2 separate regions of the Homo sapiens genome follow, and region 2 is linked to region 1. The links come from fine-mapping of genetic effects on gene expression. Tissue or cell type: naive CD4 T cells. Region 1 holds a variant in brackets; the other region holds the start of a gene. All regions are shown on one strand. Distances are from middle to middle.

The links. PIP is the estimated chance that this variant, and not a neighbour inherited with it, causes the effect.
Region 2: it holds the start of PSMD6-AS2, and the variant in region 1 is fine-mapped to the expression of PSMD6-AS2 in naive CD4 T cells (Schmiedel 2018, PIP 0.95).

What each region holds. Positions count from the first base shown.
Region 1 is chr3:63,751,387-63,759,655 of GRCh38, reverse strand. It overlaps the pseudogene CDHR18P. Among named protein-coding and RNA genes, the nearest start is that of C3orf49, 64 kb to the left of the region's middle. The variant C/T (reference allele first, on the strand shown) is at 3,153.
Region 2 is chr3:63,999,894-64,007,893 of GRCh38, reverse strand. It overlaps PSMD6-AS2 (PSMD6 antisense RNA 2), which reads right to left and starts at 3,872. Exons shown (of 3, transcript NR_038286.1): 1 at 1,826-3,872. It overlaps ATXN7 (ataxin 7), which reads right to left. Exons shown (of 13, transcript NM_001377405.1): 13 at 4,432-8,000. RefSeq lists an enhancer at 6,949-7,450.

The DNA.
Region 1 (8,269 bases):
GATAAAGAGTTTGGGTCTAGACTGGGTGCAGTGGTTCATACCTGTAATTCCAGCACTTTGTGAGGCCAAGGTGCAAGGATTGCTTGAGCCCAGGAGTTTGAGACCAGACTTGGCAACATAGCGGGACCTCGTCTCTAAAATTTTTTTTTTTTAATTACTTAGGTGTGGTGGCATGCACCTGTACTCCCAGCTACTCAGGAGGCTGAGGCAGGAGGATCACTTGAGCCAGGAGGTTGAGGTTGTAGTAAGCCATGGTTGCACTACTGCACTCCTGCCTGGGTGATGGAGTGAGACCCTGTCTCAAAATAATAATAACAATAATAATAATAATAGTAATTTGAGCCTATTTGTTATGCAGCCAATAGATCATACCCATTTCTCTTCTAAGAGATTATCTGGGGGTATTGCACACTGGAATTACAGAAAGTGATTTTAAAAATATGGGCTGTAGAATCATCAGGTACCAGTTTAAATCCTGATTCTACCACTATTAGCTCTGGACAGTGAGCAAGTTACTTAATACCACTAGACCTAATTTCCTTATCTATAAAATGAGGACTGTAATAGTGGATATATAATAAGCCTGTTGAGAAGATTCAATGAGATAATTCAATTAAATAATAGCTAATTTTTACTTAGTATTTACTTACATACCAGGCACTATTCTAAGTGCTTTATACATTTTAGCTCATTCACTCCTCACAACTTTGTATGGTAGATATTATTCCTAGTTTGCAGATAAATAATATGAGGGCTGGAGCGGTTGAAGAATCTTCCAATGAGTTGCACAAATAAATGATAGACCTGAGACTTGAAACCTAGGAAGTCTGGTTTCAGAGTCTGGGCTGTGAACCGTTATCTGATGCTAATCTTAGCATGATGCCTAGTAGAAAATATTCATGCAGTGCATGTAAGCTAATCATTATTATTATAAAGTTACTGTTAACTTATGTTATTTGACTCAAGGCAAATGGTTTAAAGTGATAGAGGACTTTCTCTGAATTTGTTTTCCGTTATGTTGAGTTGAAGGTCTTCAAACATATTTCATTATCCAAAAGAATAGAGGCTGATCCTTTGAGAAACTGTGATACTATTTGGTAGGCAAAGACATGTTAAGTTTTTTTTAAAGCAGTGTATCTGCATGATGAGAATGAGCCTTATAAAATGTTATTGGCAGCATTCTATAAAGTTGGAAGAGTGATTGCCATTGATGAAGAGCACCCACCAAATTGTGTGACATACGAAATAGCCAATGGAGACACCCAGGTTATACAAAGATTCTGGATTCATCCTCTCTCTGGAATGATCGAACTTACCACACAGCCAGACTGTGAGTCTGTGAAGCAATATAACCTCACCGTGGAAGCTGTGGACTGTGACAGATTTCACCCTTGTACAGCAATGACCATGATAAGTAGAGAGACCCAGATTTTGACATTATAGAGATGCTCTATTAAATTCTAATTTATTAAAATCAGACTGGCCAAACAGTTACAACAATGGAGAATAGAGAAGCTCATAACTTTCTCTTACTGCCTAAGCATTCTGTAACTTTTGCACATGTTATACTTTAAAAGTTTGAGGCATGTTTGAAAATGAAGAACCTGCTAATACCCCTCATTCTGATGAAAATAATAAACTTATAATAATGTCAAATATTCACCTAGTACTTACCGTGTGTTCAGTTCTAGACACATTATATATATTGACATGGTACAACTTCACCTTAAACTTTTTAGGTAGGTAATAATATACTATAATCATTTTCACCCTACAGGTGAGGAAACTGAGGGACAGAGTTTAGAAAACTTCCCTTAATTCCCTAATTATAAGATTTGTAGAACTAGACTTAAATACAGTCTGCCCCTTGTTAAGAGGTGATGTTTGTAATGAAGGTAGTTAACCAAGGTGCATTCTTTTGGCATCAAAGTGGGGGAAGGTATGGCCCTCTAAGTTATGTAAGCAATGTCAAAGGACTCTTGAAAGAAACCAAGGGTGAATGCTGCTGTACTGATGATGTGGTGTGTGTTATTAATGACAATAAGGTTTTGTCATTGGAGAAGAAACAGGAAGCTCTTTTGAGAAAGAGGAAGCAAATTTATCTATGCCTTTAAGCATAGATATTTAAAGAGTTCAAGGGATTACAATTTCTAGAGGCATCATTCGTCAGCTTTCCTTTTCTCATCATTTACATTAACAGTAGGCTTAAATAATTATAAGGACTCCATCTGGCCTAATGACTCCCTGTACATTTCCTCCTATTGTACAGAGCCCCCTGGCTTGCTGCTTATGTGGTTATTAGGTTTTCTGAGTGTGTCATTGTGATGAAAACATCAACCATTTATATCATAATTAGAATGACTTTCACAGGGACTGAGTTACAGTCATGAGGAAGGGATTAAGTGGCTTGTTTGTCTCAGTATGATACCCATAAGAGTAATCTTTAGACCTAGGTACCTGTGGCAGTTTTTCCTGTAGACATTTAAGGACTCCCAAATAGTATAGGATGATACCACTTAGAATTATCATTTACTTACTACAAATGAGAAGAGGGGAAAGCAGATTTAATAATAATTCAACAACCCCCAAATCTTCAAGTGACTCTGTTTCACCCAAAAACAAAGCAGGAGCTTGCTCATTCATTCTTTCTTTAATGAATATTTATTGAATGTTTACTCTATGTACAACATCCTTTGTTACAAGGAAGTATAAGGTAGCATATATGACCAGAGAGCTTCAAAATTTTAACATGTGGGAAGTTAACTAGTATATAGCAACTGCCAAATTTTATATATATTTATATGCCAAATTTATATATATATAATGTGTTTATATATATATAATGTGTGTGTATATATATATGTGTATATATATAATGTGTATATATATATAATGTGTATATATATATAATGTGTATATATATATATAATGTGTATATATATATATATATATATATATATATATATATATATACACACAATTCAGAAAAGGGAGATAGGGCTTTAGGCTCCAAAGTTTAGGAATCCATCATCATCATCATCATCACTATCATCATCATCATCATCACTATCATCATCACCCACTCATTATTGAGAATCTAATAAAAGTCAAGTGCTATGAAATGCCCTTGATTATCTCATTTAGAATTTAAT[C/T]TCATCTTATGGAATAGTTACTGATACTCCTTTTAACAGATGGAAGAATTTTATTTCCAAGGCTTCAAAGTTAGGTAGCTTATCCAAGATTACCCATCTGAAAGAAGGAGAAGGATTAAGTCTGAGTACTTAATCACTATCATGTACCCTAAATTATTTCTCCAATCCAACAGCAATTTCTGTCTTCTCTAATTTCAGAATGTACCTTAAGTCCTTCCACTTCTTACTTTTCTAACTTGTCTACTGCTAATACCCCAACTGTGCCTTTACCATACCTCACCTGGTCTAGTGTAGCAGCTTCTTGATTAGAACCCCCATTCCTACTTGTGCCCTTCACAGCCTACTCTTCACACCACAGCCAGAGTGACCTTTTAAAAAGATAAATCATCCTGTTCCTCAACATTCTCCATTGGCTTCCCATCATGCTTAGTTAAGCTCCAATGTCATCTTCAAAGTCTGCAGTGCCCTCTATGATCTGGGCCCTGGCTACCAATTTGTCTTTAGCTCCTAGCTCTCTCCCTCTTACTTACTTCAATCCAGCCACATGAAACATTTGTTGTTTTTCCAACACACCAACAATGTTTTACCTCAGAACCTCTGCCAAAGACTGTAATGCTTATCTTCCATTGGCTCATATTCTCACTTTAATCATATCTCTGCCCAAATGAAATTTGTTTCTAAGGGCCTTTTATATTGTGTGTAATGGTGGGCATTTGAAGCAATCCATGTGTGTTCATCATGGGAAATGAACAAGCAAATATGGTAGATGCATACTACAGAATACAGACTCCAGAAATAGCAAATGAATTCTGCAAACAAAAACATGGAAAGCACATATATGGCGCTGGGTGAGAAAAGTAAGAAACACAAAAGGTCTATAGCACCATATCATTTGTGCAAGTCAAAATTATACAACTAAAAGCTACATATTCTATGAGGATACATACATGCTTAAGGACATATAACAAACATGAGAGAGAGGGAATAGGTGAGTGGGTCAAAGAAATAAATCCCTCTTAAAATACTTCCATCAGCTATTCTCTATCTCCTTAACCCAAATAGCATCAGCTTATCCTATGATTTTGCCTAATATATTTATTTGTCAGTATAGTTATTGCTTTGCTTTCGTCATTAGAATAAATTATATTAGATCAGGGTCTTTGTTTTTGGTTTACCACTGTAGCTTCTGTGGTGTCTAGATCAGTGCTTGGCACATAGTAAGTATTCAATAAATATTCACTGAATGAATGAACTGATCCTTCTGACAGTCCTGAGAAGGTAGAGATTGAGATCTGCTTTTTGCAGTTGAAGAAAGAAAAGGTAAGTCACTAGTGCCAAATAAAGTCATCAATAAGTGTCAGGCCCAGGATTTTAATAAAGATTCCTGATATCTTTCTGTGATATAATGGAAATAGCACTGGACTATTCCAGAAATCTCCTTAAAATCCGTTTAATTATTATGTAAAAAGTCTCACATACTTGGTGAGACACATAGCTGTATTCAGTCTATAGAAGTAGCATTAAAGAATGAACCATTCCTTAAGAATTTAGCTATGTTTTTAAAACATTACATAAAACACTTTAAAAAGATAATACTTGCAAATATTGGTGCACCACGGATTCTTCTGCAAGTATTATTGAGACAGTTATTAGTCATCTAAGAAGTGGGTAGATAACCTTTCTAGGCTGACTGGTATTCAATCACTGACATTTAAAAATTCTTGATATTTTGATCTTTTTCTACGTAAATTATAGTTTCCTAGTTTATGGTATTTTAATTAAGAAAAGGTTGATAACAGTCCCTAATTAAGGTCAGAGCATACTTTGAAGTAATCATATTGTTACCAATAAAATATTGAGTTTGAGAGAGTAGTACTGAGGAAGTTCTTTTGAGAAAGAGGAAGCAAATTTATCTATGCCTTTAAGCATAGATATTTAAAGAGTTCAAGGGATTACAATTTCTAGAGGCATCATTCTTCAGCTTTCCTTTTCTCATCATTTACATAATTTGTGAGCTTTCCACAAGCTTATCTAATGAGCCAAAATCCTACCTAACGGCTACATTGAATGTCACAGTTAACCCAGGAATAATAAACCACTGACTAGTTGATTGATGGCCAGAATTCCAATCTGCAGGAACATTTTTTTTAAATCCAAATCTCTAGACTTTTTATTTAATAATTCCAAATGATCCGTCTCTACCCTTATGCTTATTTCTGATATTGTGTATAAGTAGTCACATGGTGTGGATTTGATGTTTCTTCTTCCCTCATGGCTGACAGATCACTGTTGACATTGAAAATGAGAATGATGAAGCACCTGTCTGCACACCCTCTCTATATAAGACAGTCATTTTTGACAATGTTGTTCTTGGGACAAATGTCAATGGCTTCACCCTGAACTGCCACGACGGAGAGTCACAAGATTTTGAAATGCGTTTTGAGATGGTTTCTGGTGCATAATTTTATTATTTCTTTTAATCGTGAGCATATGTCAAATTGACATTAGTTTTGCCCTGTTAGATATTATGTATAACTTCAGAAATAATTATGTTTATAACAGTTAAACTATTTAATATCTATAGCATTGTTTCCTCAAGGCATCTTTTTTACTTTCACATATCAAATCTAATTCCTCCCATAATGGAAGTATCAGTAATTTTACAGATGCTTTGACAACGGACTTTGAACCTGGATGGGAAATGTTGAAGGTTAAGTTACAAGGAATGAAGTCTGCTGTCCATGGTACTGGATAACAACAGCCACCTTTCCATTTGATGCTATTAGTACAGATTCAGTAGGATGCGTGGTTTCAAACTGTGTTATTTTTGGATTTGCACAGATCCATATCAACTTAAGCCATCTTATTTTTTACGAAAGGCATATATTGGGACCAACTATGTATCAGGCAATGTGCTCGGAAATGTGTACACAGAAGTATATGAGACAGATATTCACGGCACTCATTGTTTACTAAACTAGTAGTAACACCAGCAATTATAAAATTACATACTGTGATAAGTTCTATAAAAGAAAACTACTGGGTATCATGAGACAGCATAACGTGGAGACCTATTTAAATTATGGAGATCAGACCTGCTGTCATGTATCTGAAGGAGTAGAAGCTTGGAAATCAGTAAGGACATTGCCAATTGATTATAAAGACTAGTTTGATGTCTTATTCCCTTGCTGGGTGATAAGCTCCATGAAGGTAGGGACCCTGTGTATCAACAATGTCTCCAGGGCTATGGAGATAACTTAAAATTAGAAGGGGCTCAATAGATATTTATGATCTGACCGGCCCATTTGATATTGATCTAGACTAAGTTGAAGATGGGAATCAAATTGATCTGAGTAGAAGGAAAGGAGAATCAATTAGATAATAATTTGAGGCTTGCTGGCTATATATGGGATCAGATTCATGATCTTAATCTTCAAAATTTTTTTTTCCTAACCAACTGAAATTGTTGCTCATTTGATCTCAGCTTTATTATAAGCCATGTATAGATATAAAAACTCAGGGTGCAATGGAAATTTTAAAAAAATTTACGCCTACTGTGTTTTAATAGCAATTTAAGGTAGTTTGAGAAAATCTTTCAATATACCTTAAAATAATTCTAACTTCTCAATTATCACTTTTAAAGGAAAAGAGAACCATCATTTTGGATTTGACCCAACTCGAGGTTCAAATACTCCAAAATTAATTGTGAAGAATCCTTTCAACTTTGAATGTAGAGCTGAAGTACAGCAGCAGTACCATCTTGTTGTGCATATAATTGATGATAACTTGAAATATGGCAAATCCACCAAGCCCAGGACAGGCACCGCTGTTATAGATATTTATGTGAGAAGAGCCAATATGCCACCTCCTCCAACCACTAGTTGTGAAGTAAAGAGTTATAGAATTTAATTTGGGTCTCTGTATGGGAAATGTTCTACTGTAAGTTCAAGTTTCATCTAAAAAGGCTAAAGGGCTACTCAGGGCAGCACCTTCACCCATATGCTTTTCCACTTGGGCGCTACCCCATCCAGCCACAGGACCACATTTTAGAGTGTACATCTATGAGTATAAATTGAGAGGTGAAACAGAATTTATGAGAATTGCAAGTAGAGCATAGAGAACTCCTAAGAAACTAATTATGTCATCTGAATGATCTGAAAGTCCTGCCCATCAGAAGGGCCCACTACTCAGTGAATTTTATCAATTAAAAAATCTCTACAAATGGGTACTTTGAAAGTTTATTCTCGCGGCCGGGCACGGTGGCTCATGCCTGTAATCCCAGCACTTTGGGAGGCCGAGGCGGGCAGATCATGAAGTCAGGAGATCGAGACCATCCTGGCTAACACGGTGAAACCCCATCTCTACTAAAACTACAAAAAATTAGCCGGGTGTGGTGGCAGGCACCTGTAGTCCCAGCTACTCGGGAGGCTGAGGCAGGAGAATTGCTTGAAATGGGGAGGTGGAGGTTGCGGTGAGCCGAGATCACGCCACTGCACTCCAGCCTCGGTGACAGAGTGAGACCTCATCTCAAAAAAAAAAAAAAAGTTTCTTCTCTAGTAGCCATGATATTCACAGTCATGAGCACATACCATGTGCCAGGCACTGTACTGCATGTATTATATTCATCATTTCATTTTATCTTCAATCCAAACCCCATGAAGTTTAGCAGACCTTTCAGTATTTCATTATTTAAAAAAAATAGGTATGTAAAGCCTCTGCAGAATTCCAGAATGGCTCCTGAATAATGCACAGATAAACTGTTCAGTAAACATAATGGTTAGTTTATTTTGTTGTTTTCTATCCTTTGAAATAGAAGCATTGAAAAAAACATGGGTGGTAAATCCTCCCAACAGAATGCTTGGTTTTCAAGAACACATTGTTCTCTTAAACTGCACAAAAGCAGTTACTGTGTGTAGAGCAGATAATGGGGCATATAAACTTAAAAGGACCTCAGATACCACCTAGTGAAAACCCTTGATTTTACAAATGAGAAAACTGAAGACAAGGAGGAGAAATGGTTTGTTCAAGATCATAGAGTGGTCATTGCATACAATTCAAGTATTCACTTCCTTAATTTGGGGCCTTCTGTATGCAAGGGTGTTCCTCGGTATTTTAAA
Region 2 (8,000 bases), 250 kb before region 1:
GCCTACAACTTGATCACTAAGCATGCAATACTCAATACACTTAGGATTTTGTGACTGAACACATTTGGTCTTTTATAACCTGACCAAACATTAACTGATAAAAGGCTACTAAATCATTAGCAAATCATTTCTGTAATTTCATATTCTGAATTAGTCCTTGGTGCTGCTGTTAACCTAATGTTTTTAAGATGAACAGCTGACAGCTGAAATATCTGCCCCCATGATTATGGGGGAAAAAGCGTGGAGGGAACTATGATAATCCCTGACCTTCCCAATGCTACATAAACTTGTAGTTGCTGGTAACAAACCTGTGCCTCCACAATGGCAATGGGGGAGTGGGGTAAAATCCCCATCTGGATAACATGAAAAGCTCTGATAATCACTAGTTTTGGTTTCAAAGCTGTAGAGCCACAGATTTGCATTATGCTTGTGTTTCTGAAGGAATACAAAGGCTATCAGGAATTTGTAGCAATCTGATCCAGGCCATTTTAACCTTGACATACATGGTCAAAGGGTATAACCTTTTTTTTTTTTTTTTTTTTTTCCCCATTTAAAAATATCTTACAGTGGCATAACTTTCCCTGTACAAATTGGGTTTAAGAAACAAAAGGGACAATTTGCTAATCAATGATGAGCCTTTAATCCAACCATTATATATCCCCTTTCCATCCTTAGATCCCTTGAAGAGACCATTTAGTTAAGACTACCAACAGGTGACACCCTGACCTCCTTACCAACCTTGCCTTTTAGAGGTGACCAGAGACCTGTGCTTTTCCAAAGTACTGTTATACGTGTAATTAGTATAATATCAATGTGGGGAAACTCTACCTTTGGATTTTGAGGACTCTGCTTTTCTTGAAACCCTCTGGGTTAGAGACTGTTTATTCATATGCACCTCAGGAACTTGAGGCCAAGATGAAGTTCACTGTTTCCTAGTCCTTTGCTTGTTCTCCTGGCCATTATGTTTCCACCTTCATTCAAAATGCCTTCTCTTTGAAGCTGCTTATAACCCAGCAACACCATCAACTCACTGTGCTCACTGTCCTCAATCACACATCTCCAAGTCACTCTCCCCTCTTCCATGCAAATCATCCCAGAACCAAGCAACCCTAATTTGAAATGGACAACCTATACAACACCCTTGGCTTCACAGTTCCTCAGCCTGAATTCCAGTGCTCTTTTCCTCCATGCTGCTTCTGTCCACTGCCATGGTTTCCACCCAGGAATCACAAGCACCTCTGGCCAGTTCTGCTTTTGAAAATAATACTGGAATTCCAATTCCTCTGGCCAGTTCTGCTTTTGAAAGTAATACTGGAATTCCAATTCCTCCATTCCCTGTCCTATTCCTAAAAGTGCTGTATCACTTTGATAACTCTGGCCCCTGGATCTCACCTTGTAGCCCCTCACTTTTATTGGCCATGTGGAATTAAATGTGGACTTTGCTCTGTGACCCTGAACAAATCAATTGTCTAATCATAGAAAAAGTTACCTGGAAGGAGATTCCTAAGACCTAACAAGAAGATAATTCCAGTCAAACCAATGTCTTAAGAGCACCTGCATAGATTCTACATGGTTGGCTTCTAGTTCTCTTCCCTGAATACCCAGTTCAGACCATCATCAATCACTCAGCCACATCTTCACTCTTTGGCAATCTCCCTGCTCAAGTTCTATCTTTTCCACCCAACCAATACATGCTGTTCCAATTATCCTGGAGAAAACAGCAGGGCAATAAAACGTTAACTAAATAGGTAGATAGCATTGGTAATTATAATGGGATTGACTCAAAACATCTAACCCTGTAAACCATCTCAATGCCTTCCCTTACCTCTCTTTTTACTCTACTGCTCCTTCTCCATTTGTCTTCATGAAAATAGTCTTCTCCAAGGTTTTGTCCTGGGTTTTCTCTCTGGGCCATGGAGGATGGGCTTCAGGTTTGTGATATCCTGGAAGCGGAATATAAAAATGTGGTGTGCCTGTGCCTCGGTCAGACAGGATGCATAACTTCATGTGACTCCTGGAGTCTGAGGAGGGAAAAAATTAAGAATCACTGTTCTGACAGACCTGAATTACCCTGGATCTGCCACCTATTCGTTGTGGGACCTTAAGCAAGATACCTTCTTAGGAGTTCCAATCAGTATGATTGGAATCAAAATACCTGCCCTATGAGGGCTTAGTAAAAGAGAGGATGTATATAAAATGCTTGGCACAGTATCTGGCATATTAAGTACTTCACTAGAGAAGTATTATTTTAACATAATAATAAGCCAAATCGAATAGCTACTTAATTTTCCCAGGTAAACTCCATCTACCCTTATGACCTCACTGATGATCTAAAACTGAAAGACAACTCTCCATCTTTATTTTCCAGCTCAAACCTCCCTCCTAAAGTCCAACCAGCCTGTACAGCCAGCTGGGCACTAAACCAGAATTTCCCACCAGCAGCTCAAATCTATCGTTATGTCTTTTTCCTTCTCTGTTACCATATCGCACATTTCACTTAAAGCTCAATTGGTTTGGCCAAGCTAGAAACCTGAAGTCTTCTTAGACTCACTCTTCCCTTTAATGTTGAACAGAGTTAGACCTCAAGGCTTGTTGGTTCTACTTTTTAAAGATTTCTGAAATCAGTATCACTTATCCTCACAGTCAGCCTTCGTTTGGAAACTTAATAGCTCTTACCTGGATTACAACAGCTTTGTAACTTATTTTTGTCCCAAGGTTCTCACCTGTTGATTCTGTCTTCCATTGTTATTGGAGGGCCATAGGTGGCAGAGATGTTTTTTCCACAAAGTATTAAATTATAAGTGATTCTCCCCTTCCCCCTGGAGACTTTTTCTTTGGCTGATAGCCTCACTCTCCCTTACCTCCTAAGAGATATTCTGGTCCATGGTCTTTGGATGTAGAAAATGAGGATAACAAGTGCCAAGAATTACAGCCTTACAAGGTGAAATACTACTTTAATTAACTTCCATTAACAACAGGAGCAAGAACTTCTTACAGAAAGAGGAGACTAAGAAAGGAGTGAGAAGGGAGAGGAACTTAAGAGTTGATTTAGGGGAGTGCTTTTTGTTAGGACTGGGGACAGGGGCAGGTAAAGACAGATCTTTGAAGCAAAAGAGAGTGAGAATGCAAGACATGGGGAAAGAGACTTAAGTGCTCCTTTGCTTTTCCACAGTTTTCAGTACAGATTTGAATGGCTTTGACTTTTGGCAGCTGCACAGTGCTAGGACTGGACCATGAAATATCTCTGGGCTCTGACAATTACATTTGGGTTAATCTAAGCCTGATCCCATGTGTTCCTGGAAGAGAAGCCCCATGACATTCAAAGTCCTTGACAATCTGACACCAGCTTTTCTAACCCTATAAGGCCCTTCCATCCAGCAAACTTCCTGCAGAATTATTCTCTATCCCTCACATGTTCATACCCATGCTCGACGCATTTGCTCTCTCTGCCTAGAATCTTACTCTTGTCTGCCTTTCTGCCTGGTTAAATCCCACATACGCCAAGATCCAACACTGCTAAACCCCTTTCCTTGAGTTGGGATCATCTTGTTATGCAGGGCCGGGATACCTGCAAGGGAATGGAATTAAAAAGGTTAAGAGATTGAGCAGTTGAACCTTTTCTTGGGAGGTTTGAGGACAAGCCATAGTGAAAGGATTTACCTACAGAGAGCACCTCATTATTAGATTTGTGGAAAGTACTGAGTGGATGGTTGACTCAAGTAAGGAGGGAATGGGAAGTCCACAGGGCAGTAGGAACTGAAGCCAACATGACTCTTTCATATCAGGTATGGACATTCTTGCTAACACACAGCGGTTCCTCCTCTTATTTTAAGCAACAAAAATAATTTATCAGAATGGTTTATTTGCAAACAGTAAAAATGTCTGGATTTCTAGAGGTAAATGATTATGCTGTGTTCCAAATAATACTAAAATGCACTTGTATTGCCAGTAAGGGAGGTATGTAAAAGAAAGGAAGAGATTAGACCGGGTCTGGATAAAAAGCTTATCTTAAACCAAAACTACATGTCATCAAATTTGCACCTAAGTACAAATAGAATGTGTTTCTCAATCCATCAACTCCCTCGTTTCTTTCACAAACATGCAAGGCCAGAATACAGTAATGTTCACTGTTTACACAGTTACTAATTTATCCAAAGCAAAGCTTTGTGCCCCCAGATGGAAACATCCCCAGGCCTTAGAAGTATTTAGCTTATATAAGAGGAAGGCTAAATTGAAGGGGCTTCACAAGGGTGTTCCATGCCAAAAGTGATGAAAAGTCAGAGTAGACTGAAAGGGTTTAGTATCACAACGAGGCAGAAACGTACAATATTTCATGCAGCCAACCTTATTTATTGAGAAGTCCTAATTTTATTGCCCGTTTAGTAACATGTTTGTTCCACAAGCTAATTTCTTATAAAGCAAAGCACAACCTTTTCTTATAAATAGTATAAATTATTTTATTTACAGAAACTTGTTACAAAACAAATAGACTATATATTTCTTCTCTTTTAAATATCCAAAGTAATTTTCTATCCCTTGACATTTGTTCATGTTCTATACAGCAGCCAACACAAAGTCCAGCTGAGATGCTCTTGATTATGTGTACAAATTATCAAACTATTCACACGTTTTTAACACAGGAGATTGCTTTTATAACCAAGCTCAAAAAAAAAAAAAAAAAAAAAAAAGCAAAATGCTTTCAAGGCCCTACATTCACACTGACAGTATGTAGTGCTCATTTAAATTATCTGAAAATGTAAAATGTTTTGCACAAAATGTAAAAGTGATTATTTTCTGCTAAACAAACTTTTAAGAATATTTTTTCAAAGCCCAATCGCCCCAAACCCCCTGGACAGAATGAGCGACATTAAGAAATTCCTTGGCAACAGAACTCTTGCAGGAAGACAGCTGCCCTTATAAGTTACATTTTTCAAATTATACATTTTTTTCAATGTTCTCAGAGGTACTTCTTTGTATTATATTTTTGGAATACAAAATATTTTAAATATTTTAAATTGTATTTCATGAGTGAATAACAAAACGGACACATCGTGTAAGTTGCTGGCTGACAAAAAGATCTGTAACCCTTGGTGCCACCAGGCAATCCATCACCAATTGAATTACTATGAACCAAGAGGTCTTAATTTTAAAATACCTTATAAAATTACCAGCATTGGTGGTTTTCAACTCCGCCCCTAAAATTTTAGAAACAATATTTAGGTGGAAAAAGCAAACTCCAAAAGTTCAACTGAACATTCAAGTCTTTTTAAAGAGATTCTGTCTAAGCTTAAAACTAGTTTCAGGCACTTTCAGTTTTTTCCATTAGTTTTAAACCACATCACATAGTAACATACATGTGCTGAGTATACACACACACGCACAGGCACACACACACGCAGTCACATACTCCCACACATAAAATACTAACAAAAGAAAAGCAGTGTGTCACTTAGTTACATGTAGTCTATCGGGAAACCAGGCAACCAGGAAGAAGCAATGCCCACTTCATCTGTATGAATCCACTCCCGAGACACTAAAAGGGACAAAGACTTTTCACAGAACAGAGGCATCCCTTAAAACTGTAAAGGAGGCAGGTTCTAGAACTATTGGCTTGGCAGTGAACCACTTCAAATTATAAAAAGGTATTTACTTTTATTAATTAATAAATAAATACTAGATGATCTCAATTGTACCAAAACAGGATATCAGAAAAAAAGACCTGTGCAAAAATACATATTTAAATATGTACAATTCATTTTTAACAAAATATGTCTTCTGAAATAGGGATACTTCCATATTTATAATAGAACAAGAAATTCCAAAATAAAGATACAAAAGTAGGTTTTGTATAATTCTTTGTTCATCATTGCAGCACTTTTTTTTTTTTTTTGTAGGTTAAGAAAACTGCAGGAGTTGTCATGAAATTCTATTGGAAAGAATATAAAAATTATCTTGGTTTTAAATTGATACCAAAGTCTGTCTAGAAACAACCCAACCACTGCAAATTTGGTTTTTGCAAGTTAATTTAATTCAAAAAAATACTTGTACTCCCGTGTTTTAAATGGTCTTAATTATTCATCACCATAAAAAGTAGTTTAGGAGAAAATAAAATATTTGAACAACAGTCTAAAATTTAATAGCACTGTTTAGAATAGGTCTGTTTGTGGCAGACAGAATCCAAAATGGCTAATTTCCTAATCCCGATGCTCTGTGTATTACCGGGAGAAATAATGAAATTCATTTAAAACCTCAGTCTAAGAAATCAAATGTTCAATACTTGCTAATCTAAATATCTACATTAGTCTGAATCAACTTGTTATTGTGGATCCTATTCACATCTTTCGGAACAACATGATCGATCTGTAAATTCCATTGCTAAAGGCAACTTTATTTATAACCATCAAGTCCTCTTGGCTCTGAAAATAAATTCTACCCATACCCCATTGCACTTGTCACCAAGGAATCAACTAGGTACGTTCTGATTCCCTCTCACCTCTCTCTTCCCCGACTGGGATGGAAACCAGACTGATTTCTCCCAACTATGCCAAACTGGCCCATCCATGCCCTCTCCTTACTAAGCTCTCCTGTAGTATCATTTTAAAAACATTTACTGATTGATTGCATAATAATTGAACAAGATACTGTTCTCTCCTTCCTTTAAAAAAATCAGTATTTTACATCAATTTATAGCTAAAGTATCTGCATAAAGTTTTTGTTTTCTTACATAATAAGAATAATTCTGTAGCAATTCACATTATTAGGCTGGTAACCAAGTTTATTCATTCTACCTGTTGTTGACTTGAAATTCCCTGAAACTGAAGTTTGAAACCCAAGAACTGTAGGAAAAAAAGAATGTACTGACTGGCTCTCATCAGGCCCTGGCCAGGGCAACGATCAGCGCCTTGGAAATTTTACCCTGTGTTCGGCAACTTCGTGTGTTCTTCTAAGCAACAGTGCCTGTTACTCGTGTCAGGAGCCTGTAGTGGTGGAAGCACCCATTTAAAGGCTCCGGCTCGTCCCGGAATTCAATGACACCTTCTCCAAGCAATGCTGTTTTAACATATTAAGGTCTTTCTTTAGGGGTGGGGGGTGGGGTACTAGAAAAAATATCCTAGAGGGCTCCAAAACTCTCAGGAAGATGGCTGGTATAATCCCAAGAAAGGAGGGTGTGTGTCAGGGCAATCCTATACATGCATCACAAAAGACCTTCAGGTCAGGACTTACATTCTCTCCAACTCCCTTTCCTTGGTGTCTGCTCTCGTCCCCAACCACATCCAAATAAACATCTGAAGTGGCATGAAGGGGAGTGCATACAAAAACACACAATGCCAGAAGTGCTTGAAGCAGAAATCTACACTTAGTCCCAGGACAGTATCCAAAGAGAAAAACAAGGGTAATGTAGAGAGTGCCTTGGAAACATTTAAGTGTATCTAATAATGTCACTTTAAAAGGTGACTTTTAAAAATAGACCAGGTAGGACAACCAACCCAATCTGCCATACTGTTTACTATGAAAACTTAAAAGGATTAAGAAAATTTCATCTCTTTGGAAATCTTGAAAAAAGTTTTTTCTCCCTATAGTGATTTTAACTTCCTCACTCCCACCCTCCCCCGACCCAATTTGGCCTTCCTTTCTCAAAACTAGCTTGCATTTTCTTTCTTCTTAAAAAAAAAAATCACACAGAATTGCTTTTGTATCATGAAAAGTAAGCCTCCAAAATGATTTATACTTGCTGTCTGGGCATCAAAAATTTCAAACCAGTTTGTAAGTTAGAAACTTCTGACAGCTTCTTTTCCCAAATTACTCTCAAAAGGCTGGGCTATTTTGTCATGGTGTCTTGGGCTAACATCTATATTTCATTCCTGGAACATTGCTATCAAAATCTAAAGCCTAATTCCCTTCTTCAGAGGGTTGCTCGGGATGCAGCCCTGTGTTCTCTGGAAGGTTTCTGGTCTCCAGTTAAGGTGCCTAACTGCTGGAGAGTGACCTACAGATGACAG